Regions from separate parts of the Homo sapiens genome. Here region 2 is linked to region 1. The links come from fine-mapping of genetic effects on gene expression. A gene starts in region 1. The other region holds a variant in brackets. All regions are shown on one strand. Distances are between the middles of the regions.

Region 1 (5,367 bases):
TGCAGACCCTGCCCGAGTGGGGTGTACCTGGCTCTTTTTCTCCTTCTGTTCTAAGATTTTCTGCAGCACTTTCTTCTCCTTCTTGGTCAGAGGCTTCTTCTCCTTCTTCGACAGGGGAGGGGCTTTGGTCTTCTTTTTCTTCTTCCCCGGTAGAACGAGCGCGTTGCTTGCATCAACTCCCTTCAACGTGTCCTTGTCTGAGAGAGCACAGTTATTAAGTCCCCATTCTCCTTGAGGTAGCTCTGGTCCCGCCTCCCACAAGCCCCCTGACTTGCATGGGGGCCTCCTGAGTCTGCACACAGGAACAGGGGGATCTGTGAGCTCAAATCTATTTTCATAACAATACTATGATGTTCTCAAGGCTTGGCGCAGGGGCTCATGCCTGTAATCCCAGCACTTTGGGAGGCTGAGGCAGGTGGCTCACTTGAGGTCAGGAGTTCGAGACCAGCCTGGCCTATGTGGCGAAACCCTGTCTCTACTAAAAATACAAAAATTAGCCAGGTGTGGTGGTGGGTGCCTGCAATCCCAGCTATTTGGGAGGCTGAGACAGGAGAATCTCTTGAAACTGGGAGGTGGAGGTTGCAGTGAGCCGAGATCTTGCCACTGCACTCCAGCCTGGGCGACAGGGTGAGACTCCATCTCAAAAAAAAGAAAACCCCCCAAAAAATACTATGATTTTCTCTTTTTGTTTTTTTGAGACGGTGTCTCACTTTGTCCCCCAGACTAGAGTGCAGTGGCGCAATCTCAGCTCACTTCAACCTCCGCCTCCCAGGTTCCAGCAATTCTCCCGCCTCAGCCTCCCAAGTAGCTGGGATTACAGGCATGTACCACCACGCCCCAGCTAATTTTTGTATTTTTAGTAGAGACGGGGTTTTACCATCTTAGCCAGGCGGTCTCGAACTCCTGACCCCCAAGTGAGCCACCCGCCTCAGCCTCCCAAAGTGTTGGGATTACAGGCGTGAGCCACTGCACCCAGCCTGATGTTCTCCTAAGAGTGTACGGTGGGGCCGGGCGCGGTGGCGCACGCCTGCAATCCCAGCACTTTGGGAAAATCACCTGAGGCCAGGAGTTGGGGACCAGCCTGGCCAACATGGCAAAATCCCGTCTCTACAAAAAATACAAAAACTAGCCAGGTGTGATGGCATGCACCTATAATCCCAGCTACACAGGAGGCTGAGGCACGAGAACTGCTTGAACCCGGGAGGTGGAGGTTGCAGTGAGCAGAGATCACGCCACTGCACTCCAGCCTAGGCGACAGAGCAAGGCTCCATCTCAAATAAATAAATAAATAAAAGAAGGTAATCTGAGTCATGTTCTTATGAGATTCCTCTGGCCCCTGAGAAAGGCAGGGATACATGGAAATGTCCTGTTCTGATGTGAGAAACAACTTTCCCCAAATCTCTGGGTCTGAGAGACCTCAGCCCCTCTGCTCAGGTGGTCCAGTTCCAAGTGTCAGCCCAGTGTCTACGGCTGTCTTTGAGGTGCCATCCTGAATTGTCACTGCCATCATAACGGTTGTCACCTGTCCTGGGACACACCCCACCTCTGTAACCTTTCTTTACTTTTCAAAGCAACATATTTTCCCAAATTACCATCTCCAAAACTCTGATAGGAGGTAAGACGGCTACTACAGGTTAAATATCCCTTTCCAGAAATGCTAGGAACCAGACCTGTTTTAGCTTTAGGAACATCTGTATTCTATTCACTGGTTGAGCATCCCTAATCTAAAAATTTGAAATCTGGAATGCTCCAATGAGCATTTCCTTAAGTGTCATGTTGACACTCAAAAACTTTTGAATTTTGGAGTATTTTGGATTAAGGCTGCTCAACGTGTGCTACTGGTCCCATTCTGCAGATGTGAAAACGAAGGCACAGAGATGTTAGGGGATCTGCCTCAACTCCCAGCCTGTCTGTGGAACTTTTTTTTTTTTTTTTTTTTTTTTGAGATGGAGTCTCGCTCTCTCACCCAGGCTAGAGTACAGTGGTGCGATCTTGGCTCACTGCAACCTCCGTATCCTGGGTTCAAGCCATTCTCCTGCCTCAGCCTCCCAAGTAGCTGGGACTACAGGTGCCCACCACCACGCCTCCTCTGCTCTAAATGCTCCCATGGCTGCCCTCTCCCGTAGAGAAAAAGCCCCAGTCCTCGCCAAGACTGCAGTCCAGGCCCGACCTGCCCTGGCCCCCTGTTTTTTCTCTCATCTCCAGGCAGCCACTCAGGTCTCCTTCAGATCTTGACTCTAACAGAGTGATGTCTTCTCCAGCAACTCTATGGGATGCTGCAACCCACCCAATGGCCTCTTCTGTTTTATCTGCTCACTATAGCCGCATAAATTTCTATATGTTTATTCTTTGCCTGTCTCCTCCTATACAGCAGGTAAACTCAGGGATTTTCTAAAAATCTCCCTTTCTGCTATGTCTCCAGTGCCTAGAATAGTGCCTGGCATGTAATAAGGGCTACTCCTAAAAAGGGGTCTGAGAGAAATGTCAGCCAGCCTGGAGCTGAGCAGACAAGACTGGGCTGAAAATACACATTTGGGGGTCGCTGGAGATTATAAAGAGATTATAATCGAAGTCATGGGAAGGGATGGAACTACTCCTGTTTTTTTTGCCAAATTCTCCATGTTACTATTTGAGGGCGAGAGAAATCCCGGGTATTCCATATACACTGTTAAAACTAGGCTGTCACTAAGCCCCTCTCCTTTGGATCATCTGGAATGGGGGGACCCATTCCCCCATTCCAGATGATCCATCCCACCCCTCTGGGATCCCCACCCGAGAGTCCTGAAGGCAGGGCACAGGCCGCCCTGGGAAATCTCCGAAATCCAGCCCCGGTCCGGGGATGTCTTACCCTCCAGTTCCAGCTGCACGGGGGGCGGCTCGGGGGGGCCCTTCGAGGGTCCGGGGCCCGCCTGCTGGCGCCCCTTGATGTTGTAGCGCCGGCGCAGCTTCCCCATGGCGACTAGGCCAGGGTGGGCGCTCCAGCGGCCGGACCAGCAGAGCAATCCGAAACCCAGCCCACGTGGGTTCCCAGACCACCAACTCCGGCCGTGAGACTTCCGGGTTGTGTTATCGCGAGAACTGTAACTGACTTTGCCGCTGAGGGGCGGGGTTGCAAGAGAAACCCAGCGAAGAGGAGAGGCGGAGCCGGGCCGGGCAGGGGGCGGGACTATTTAGAGAAGTAGGCGGGGCCTGAGGTCCCAGCGGAGGCCGGAGTTTAAGTCCTGGGCTGTTCTCGCTTGGGGTAGTCTGGGTTTAAATATGAATTATATCTACTGATACTAATTTGGCTTCTTGGGAGTGGAAGTGTTTTGCCACCTTTTAAAATATACCCCGCCCCCAGTACTCCAAACTTCTTCCCCCCAACCCTGGTTTGCGCATCTGTATTTTCTGATATTCCTACAAGAAACGTATTAGTCGTGTACTTTTAAAAAGGCACCAAATATTTCCATCACAGGGATAGATGGAAGATCTAAAAGGAGGCCTCTACGGGCGCGGTGGCTCACGCCTGTAATCCCAGCACTTTTGGAGGCCGAGGCGGGCGGATCACGAGGTCAGGATTTCAAGACCAGCCTGGCCAAGATGGTGAAACCCCCGTCTCTACCAAAAATACAAAAAAAATTTAGCTAGGCCTGGTGGCAGGCGTCTGTAATCCCAGCTACTTGGGAGGCTGAGGCAGAGAATTGATTGAACCCGGGAGGTGGACGTTGCAGTGAGCCGAGACTGCACCACTGCACTTCAGCCTGGGCAACAGAGCTAGACTCTGTCTCAAAAAAAAAAAAATAAAGTTGTCTATTACATAACTTTAAATTCCCATTACCGCATCACATTGTAACACACTGGGAAACAATGCATTATTATTATTATTGAGACAAGGTCTGGCTTTGTTGCCCAGGCTGGAGTGTAGTGGAGCAATCTCGGCTCACTGCAACCTCTGCCTCCCGGGTTTAAACGATTCTCCTGCCTCAGCCTTCCGAGTAGCTGGGACTACAGGTGCCCGCCACCACCCCCAGCTAGTTTTTGTATTTTAGTAGAGACGGAGTTTCACCATGTTGGCCAGGCTGGTCTCAAACTCCTGACCTCGTGATCTGCCTGCCTGGGCCTCCCAAAGTGCTGGGATTACAGGCATGAGCCACCGCGCCCGACTTTTTTTTTTTTTTTTTTAAGAGATGAGATCTCGCCCTGTGGGCCAGGCCAGAGTGCAGTGGTGCAATCACCACTCGCTGCAGCCTTGACCTGTCCTCCCACCTCAGCCTCCTGAGTAGTTATGACTACAGGCACACACCACCACGACGGGCTAATTTTTCTATTTTTTTGTAGAGATGGTGTCTCCCTATGTTGCTTAGACTGGTCTCAAAATTCTGGGCTCAAGGGATCCGTTTGTCTCGGCCTCCCAAAGTGCCGGAATTACAGGCATAAGCCACTGTGAAGGCCTTAATGAATGACGTTTAAAAAAATCATAATTAGCGTATCAAATCTATGGGGTTTTTTGTTTGTTTGCTTGTTTTTGTTTTTTTGAGACAGAACTCTCCCTCTGACGCCCAGGCTGGAGTGTAGTGGAGCAGTCTCGGCTCACTGCAACCTCCACCTCTCGGGTTCAAGCGATTCTCCTGTCTCAGCCTTCCAAGTAGCTGGGATTACAGGCACCCACCAAGATGCCCATCTAATTTTTGTATTTTTAGTAGAGATGGGGTCTCACCATGTTGGCCAGGATGGTCTCAAACTCCTGACATCAAGTGATCGGCCCACCTTGGCCTCTCAAAATGATGAGATTACGGGCCTGAGCCACTGCACCCAGGCTCAAATCTGTGTTTTTATGGATTTTGTTGCTCAGGATGATAGTGATCTAAAGTTTCTTCTTTAAATATGTTTATTTAAATAAATTAAAAGTTTAAGAAACGTTTAAAAAATGTTAAGTAGGTAGTAGTACACTTGCCTATATTTCCTTCTAAAATATAATATATCAGTGAATTACCTTCCAGAAGGTATAGACCATTCTAGACAGCAAGAAGAAGGCAGATACATAACAGCATGGATGGATCTCACAAATATAAAGTTGAACAAAAGCTGGGCGTGGTGGCTCACGCCTGTAATTCCAGCACTTTGGGAGGCCAAGGCAGGCGGATCACCTGAGGTCAGGAGTTTGAGACCAGCCTGGCCAACATGGCGAAACCTGTCTCCACTAAAAATACAAACATTAGCCGGGTGTGGTGGCGCGTGCCTATAGTCCCAGCTACACGGAAGGCTGAGGCAGGAGAATCGCTTGAACCCCGGAGGCGGAGGTTGCAGTGAGCCGAGATCATGCCACTGCACTCCAGCCTGGGCAACAGAGCAAGACTCCGTCTCAAAAAATAAAAAATAAATAAAAAA
Region 2 (5,367 bases), 41 kb before region 1:
GCCAAAAGACGGAAACAAATAAAAATGTGGTCTATCCATACAATGGGGTATTATCCAGCCATAGGAAGGAATGAAGTACTTCAGGAGCTCAAGACCAGCCTGGGCAACATAGCAAGAGCTGTCGCTACTAAAAATTTTAGCCCAATATGGTGGAGTGTGCCTGTAGTCCCAGCTATTTGGGAGGTAGGAGGATCACTTGAACCCAGGAGATGGAGGCTGCAGTGAACTAGGATCGCACCACTGCACTCCAGCCTGAATGACAGAATAAGATCCTCTTGAAAAAACAAGCAACAAACCAGGCGCGGTGGCTCACACCTGTAATCCCGGCACTTTGGGAGGCGGAGGCAGGTGGATCACGAGGTCAAGAGCTCGAGACCATCCTGGCCAACATGGTGAAACCCCGTCTCTACTAAAAATACAAAAATTAGCTGGGTGTGGTGGCATGTGCCTATAGTCCCGGCTACTCGGGAGGCTGAAGCAGAAGAATCGCTTGAACCTGGGAGGCAGAGGTTGCAGTGAGCCGAGATTGCGCCACTGCAGTCCAGCCTGGTAACAGAGCGAGACTCCGTCTCAAACAAACAAAAGCAGCAAAAGAGATAAATGTCCAGAACGGGCAAATCCAGAGACAGAAAGTGGATTCGTGGGGCTTGGAGCTGGGGAACTGGGAGAAATAGGGGCAGACTGCTGATGGGTACAGGGTATCTTTTTAGAGCTATAAAAATGCTCTGGAATCAGGTCATGGTAACGGTTGCACAACTGTGATACACTAAAAGCAACTGTATACCTTAAAATGGGGAATTTTATGGTGTGCTAATTACATAACATTTTTTAAGAAGAATTGCCTAATTACAACTGTGGATGCTCTGCTGTGGTTGTGGAGTGCAATGAGGAGGCAGGGACGTCCCTGAGGAGGCTGCCCTGGCGCCTGAGACACTGGTGGGAATGACAGCTTCCGCTTTCATCTCAGAATTGCTAGCCCATGTGCGGTGGGATTTTAGGAAAGCTGGAGGTCAGTACTTTCGAGTGGGAAATAGCCCAATTCTACATGTTAGTGAGGAGTTCAAGTCCTCCTCAATCACCGGGCGGGTCAAGCGAAACGTGTCTGCAGGCTGCCCTGGCTCATGGCCCTGCCTTGGGCTCCTGGGGAGGAACATAGAGTGAGAAGGGCCGGGCTGCCATCTCGGCTCTGGGGCAGGTGGGGAGAGGTTGCTGCTTGGGCTTTGAGAGCAGCCAGGGAGGTAAGTAAACCCAGTGAGGAGAGGCCTCCTTAAAGCAGACAGCAGTGCTGGGAAGGCAGGTCGGCCACCAGGCCACGTCCCGGGACAGCACACTGGCCACCTGGGTGTCCTTCCCCAAGTGCATTCCACAACACAATCTGGGTGCAAGGAACATTTTATTCCATAACTGTCTCCACCGAAGCCGCAGAAGCAAAGCCAGGAGCAGAATCCATTCTGCCAGCGCTGGGCTCTGGGGAGACATCTGTGCCCTCACCATGGAGGACAGAAGGCAGGGGCCTCCCGACTCCTTGGTCCTGCCTGGGGTGCTCCTGTCCCTCTTTCTTGCTGGGGGACCTACCCCACCCTCCCCCTCCCACCTCAGCCACAGAGGAACAAGGGAGACAAACTGAGGGCTCTGCAGTCCCCGTTCAAGGCCAACATAATAGTCGTGTGGCCCCAGCCCAGCTAGGCGCATCCTCTGCGGCATGGCAGCGGTGACCAAGCACAGCCAACGTCAGCTCCGCTCCCTGCCGTCTGAGAGCTGACCACAGGCAGATGAGATGCCCACTCCCTGTTGCCATAACACAGGAAAGGCGTTGGCGGCCACCCTCCCAAGAAGGCATGGAGCCTGGGGGCCCCCAGCCAGGCCCCTCAAGGTCAACACAGAGCTCAGTGGCTCACCTAACATCTGGGACGGCTGTGAGGCCAGGGCTGGGCAGCCCTCCCTGACTCTGGAGAGGGAAGAATTGCAGGAAGGAGGCCCTCCACGTGCCTCCTCGGCCTTCTGGCAGGGCGGGCGGGGAAGGGACTGCAGAGATCTCCAGCCCTGCTGCTCCACAGGGGACTAATGTAGTCCAAAGAGCACACTGAACAGAACAGCGTCCAGCACGTGAGATGAAATCATCATCCACCATATAATAAACAGTTCAAAAAGTCACCCCCGGGCCAGATGGCACGGGCGGCAGCACCCTTCATACGGGATCGAGCTCTCATGGATGAGGGTTCCCAGGGCTTGACCCACTTCCTGAGAGCAGGCCACGAAGCCCATGCCAGGTGGTCACGGTCGCACGGTGACAGGCTGCTGCCAGCCCTCCAGTCCCCAAACCAGTCCTCGGCCCTGCAGCCAGGTTTCTGGTCAGTGGACAGTGGTGGGGGGCCAGGCTTTCTCGATATCGGGGTGCATGGCCTGTGGAAGCCACTCACAGTACTCAGCCAGCAGGTCTGCAGGGGAGGGAAGGAGGACAGTGTCAGGGTGACCCTGGGCCCAGGGACTCTCCTCAGGTGGCAAAAAGCTGGCCAGCAGCCGTGGGGCCAGATCCTTCTGCCAAGCCAGGGCTGACCGTGCACAAAGCACAAAGCCCCTGCCTCAGTGACCCCATCCTGTCTACTCCCACCCCCTGGCCCTGGTCAAACTCACATTTGGGGTTTTTCTTCCAAGCAGCCAGCAAGGCTTCATGGCAGTCAGCCTTCTCTGCAACCAGGGCTCGCAGAAGGCTCTCCGTACGGGGCTGCAGCCTGTGGGGCAGGAATGCACGTTGGTGGCAGGCAGCCAGGGCACAGACCGGCTGCTGCTGGGGGCCCGAAAGCAGGGCAGGCATCACCACCCCACCAGCCCCACCCAGGAGGGTGAAGAGCTGGCTGGGCATGGTGACATGCACCTGTAGCCCCAGTTACTCAGGGGGCTGAAGTAGGAGGATCCCTTGAGCC[T/C]GGGAGTTGGAGGCTGCAGTGAACCATGACTGCACCACTGCACTCCAGCCTGGGCAACAGGGCAAGAACTTGTCTCAAAAACAAACAAACTGGCTGAGCGTGGTGGCTCACGCCTGTAATCCCAGCACTTTGGGAAGCTGAGGCAGGTGGATCACCTGAGGCCAGGAGTTCGAGACCAGCCTGGCTAACATGGTGAAACCCTAGCTCTACTAAAAATCCAAAAATATTTGCCGGGCATGGTGGCGGTCACCTGTAATCCCAGCTACTCAGGAGGCTGAGGCAGGAGAATCACTTGAACCCAGGAGGCAGAGGCTGCAGTGAGCCAAGATCACGCCATTGCACTCCAGCCTGGGCAACAAGAACAAAACTCTGTCTCAAACAAACAAGCAAACAAACAAAACTCAAAAGCAAAAAAACATAATTCTCTAGACAGGCCTTCTAAAAAATAAATAATAATAATAAAATAAAAGAGAAGGCAAAGGGTCCCCTTCCCCTAATCATCCCGGGACAGAAGGCTCTAGATCCCACCTCCTCCCATCCACCCTGGCTGCCTCTGGTCCACATTCCTTGCCCACCAAGGCTGCTCTGTGCATGCAACTTGTCTCATCTAGAACCTTCCTCCAGATTTGTGCCCAGCTGCAGCCCTGGCTCCTTTGAATCTGCCCAGTGAGGCTCTCCCCGACCAGCCCAGTCGCACTCCACCCCCTGCCCACCGAGGCCTCACTCATGTCCTGCTCTGTCCCTCTGGGGCCGAGCAACGCTGCTGTGGGACAGAGATCGTGTCTGTATCCCAGCCCCGAGAACATGCCTGGGACAGGGCCACACTGGAAAACGTGAGCTGAGTGACTGACACGGCTCCTGACAGCCCAGCAGCGGGTGCTGTGCCCCACGCCCCATCTCGAGTCCCTGGCACCTGCCTGCACCTTCAGGCCTGCCTCCAGTGCCCCAAGCCCCTGCACCATAGGCCCCACCAGCCCCAGGAAGGGGGAGGTGTCTGTGGGTCTGGACCACAGGCAGGAGGAGAGCAGAAGCAGGAGGCAGAGGGCAAGGGTGAGCCCTGAAGCAGAGGTGGTGGGCGGGATGGGGCAGGGGTCTGCTTAGCTGGGAGGAAGTCCCCAGGGCCAGGAGGGCAGGATGCCTCCCACTGACACCTGGCGGCTCTGTGGGAGCTGCCCAGTGTCTCCCCTATCCCATATTCATGTCCACCCAGAACATCAGCGTGTGACCTTATATGGAAAGAGGGTCACTGCAAATGTCATGAGTTAAGGAGAGGTCATCCTGGAGTAGGGTGGGCCCTGAATACAATGACTGGTGTCCTTATAAGGAGAACACAGGGAGGGAGACTAAAGACACACAGAGAGATGGCCACGTGAAGATGGAGGCAGAGACTGGAGTGATGTGGCCACAAGCCCAGGAGGCCGACAGAGGCAAGACGGACCCTCCCCGAGAGCCGCTGCACAGACCGTGGCTCTGCAGAGCCTTCAGACCTGAGCACAGACTTCTGATGTTTTAAGCCTCCCTGTGTGTGGTGCTTTGTCCTGGCAGCCCCGGGGAGGTCATTCAGGCCTCGGACCCCTCCTGCCCACTGCGAGGCTCCCACCGAAGGCAGTACCTGGCCCACGTCTTCAGCATGGTGCCGGGGCTGGACAGCAGACAGCTCCGGTATGAGGCCAGCTTGCGGAAGACCTGATGAGAGACCACAGGAAGGGGTGAGGCCCGGGCTGCTGCTGCCCACGGTACCCGAGATGAGGGTCTGGAGCCGCTGTGCCACCTACCTGCCCTTCCAGCAGGAACCGGGCAAAGTGCTTGTAGCGGTCAATCCCCTCTGGAAAATCCACCTCGATGGCGGGGAGCGGCCAGCCCACGCGATCTAGAAGGTGGGAGCCAGTGAGACAGGGACCCTCCTGCAGCTGCCCTCCCGAGTCCCATCCCTGCCCCACCCGAGACACACACGTCCGGGGGCAGGGGACAGGACCGTGTGTCCGAGAAGCCCACGGCTGCAGGAGGCTCAGGTTGCCCAGGACACTGCCCCAACTCACAGAACACGCTGGCCCGGTGACACAGCACCCGCCCCCGCTCGGGGCAGTATGTAGGGGCTGGTTCCTCCAGGGGCTTGTCAAACTGGCAGTAAGAGGGCAGCAGGGCCGGGATCCACTGGACCTCCACGCTAGAGACGCCTGGGGGCCGGGGGAGGAAGCTGGGGTTACAGCGGCACCCTCCGTGGGAGGGGCTGCCATGCCTCTGCCCCAGGGTCCCAGCCACACCCCCATTAGCGTCACCATCGGGGGACAAGGGGCTGTCCGCAGGCCTCGGCACCTTTCATGTACATCTTAGTGGTCTCCACGATTTCCTGGTAGACCACAAACTCGGGGAGCTCTTTGAAAAGGACGGAGCTGGGGTGGATGAAGACAGGGTCGTCGAGGAGAGGGGTCTGCAGAGAATG

What was found. PIP is the estimated chance that this variant, and not a neighbour inherited with it, causes the effect. A credible set is the group of variants that fine-mapping cannot tell apart.
Region 2: its variant is the best candidate, but not a certain one, in a credible set for the expression of DHX37 in whole blood (TOPMed, PIP 0.67).

Annotation. Positions count from the first base shown.
Region 1 is chr12:124,986,069-124,991,435 of GRCh38, forward strand. DHX37 (DEAH-box helicase 37) reads right to left here and starts at 3,063. Exons shown (of 27, transcript NM_032656.4): 1 at 2,849-3,063; 2 at 28-197. The coding sequence starts at 2,954. RefSeq lists an enhancer at 983-1,526 and a silencer at 2,767-2,976.
Region 2 is chr12:124,945,450-124,950,816 of GRCh38, forward strand. It overlaps DHX37 (DEAH-box helicase 37), which reads right to left. Exons shown (of 27, transcript NM_032656.4): 22 at 5,241-5,355; 23 at 4,964-5,101; 24 at 4,700-4,794; 25 at 4,537-4,610; 26 at 2,635-2,732; 27 at 1,377-2,438. The coding sequence ends at 2,353. Among named protein-coding and RNA genes, the nearest start is that of TRA-TGC4-1, 8.2 kb to the left of the region's middle. The variant T/C (reference allele first, on the strand shown) is at 2,925.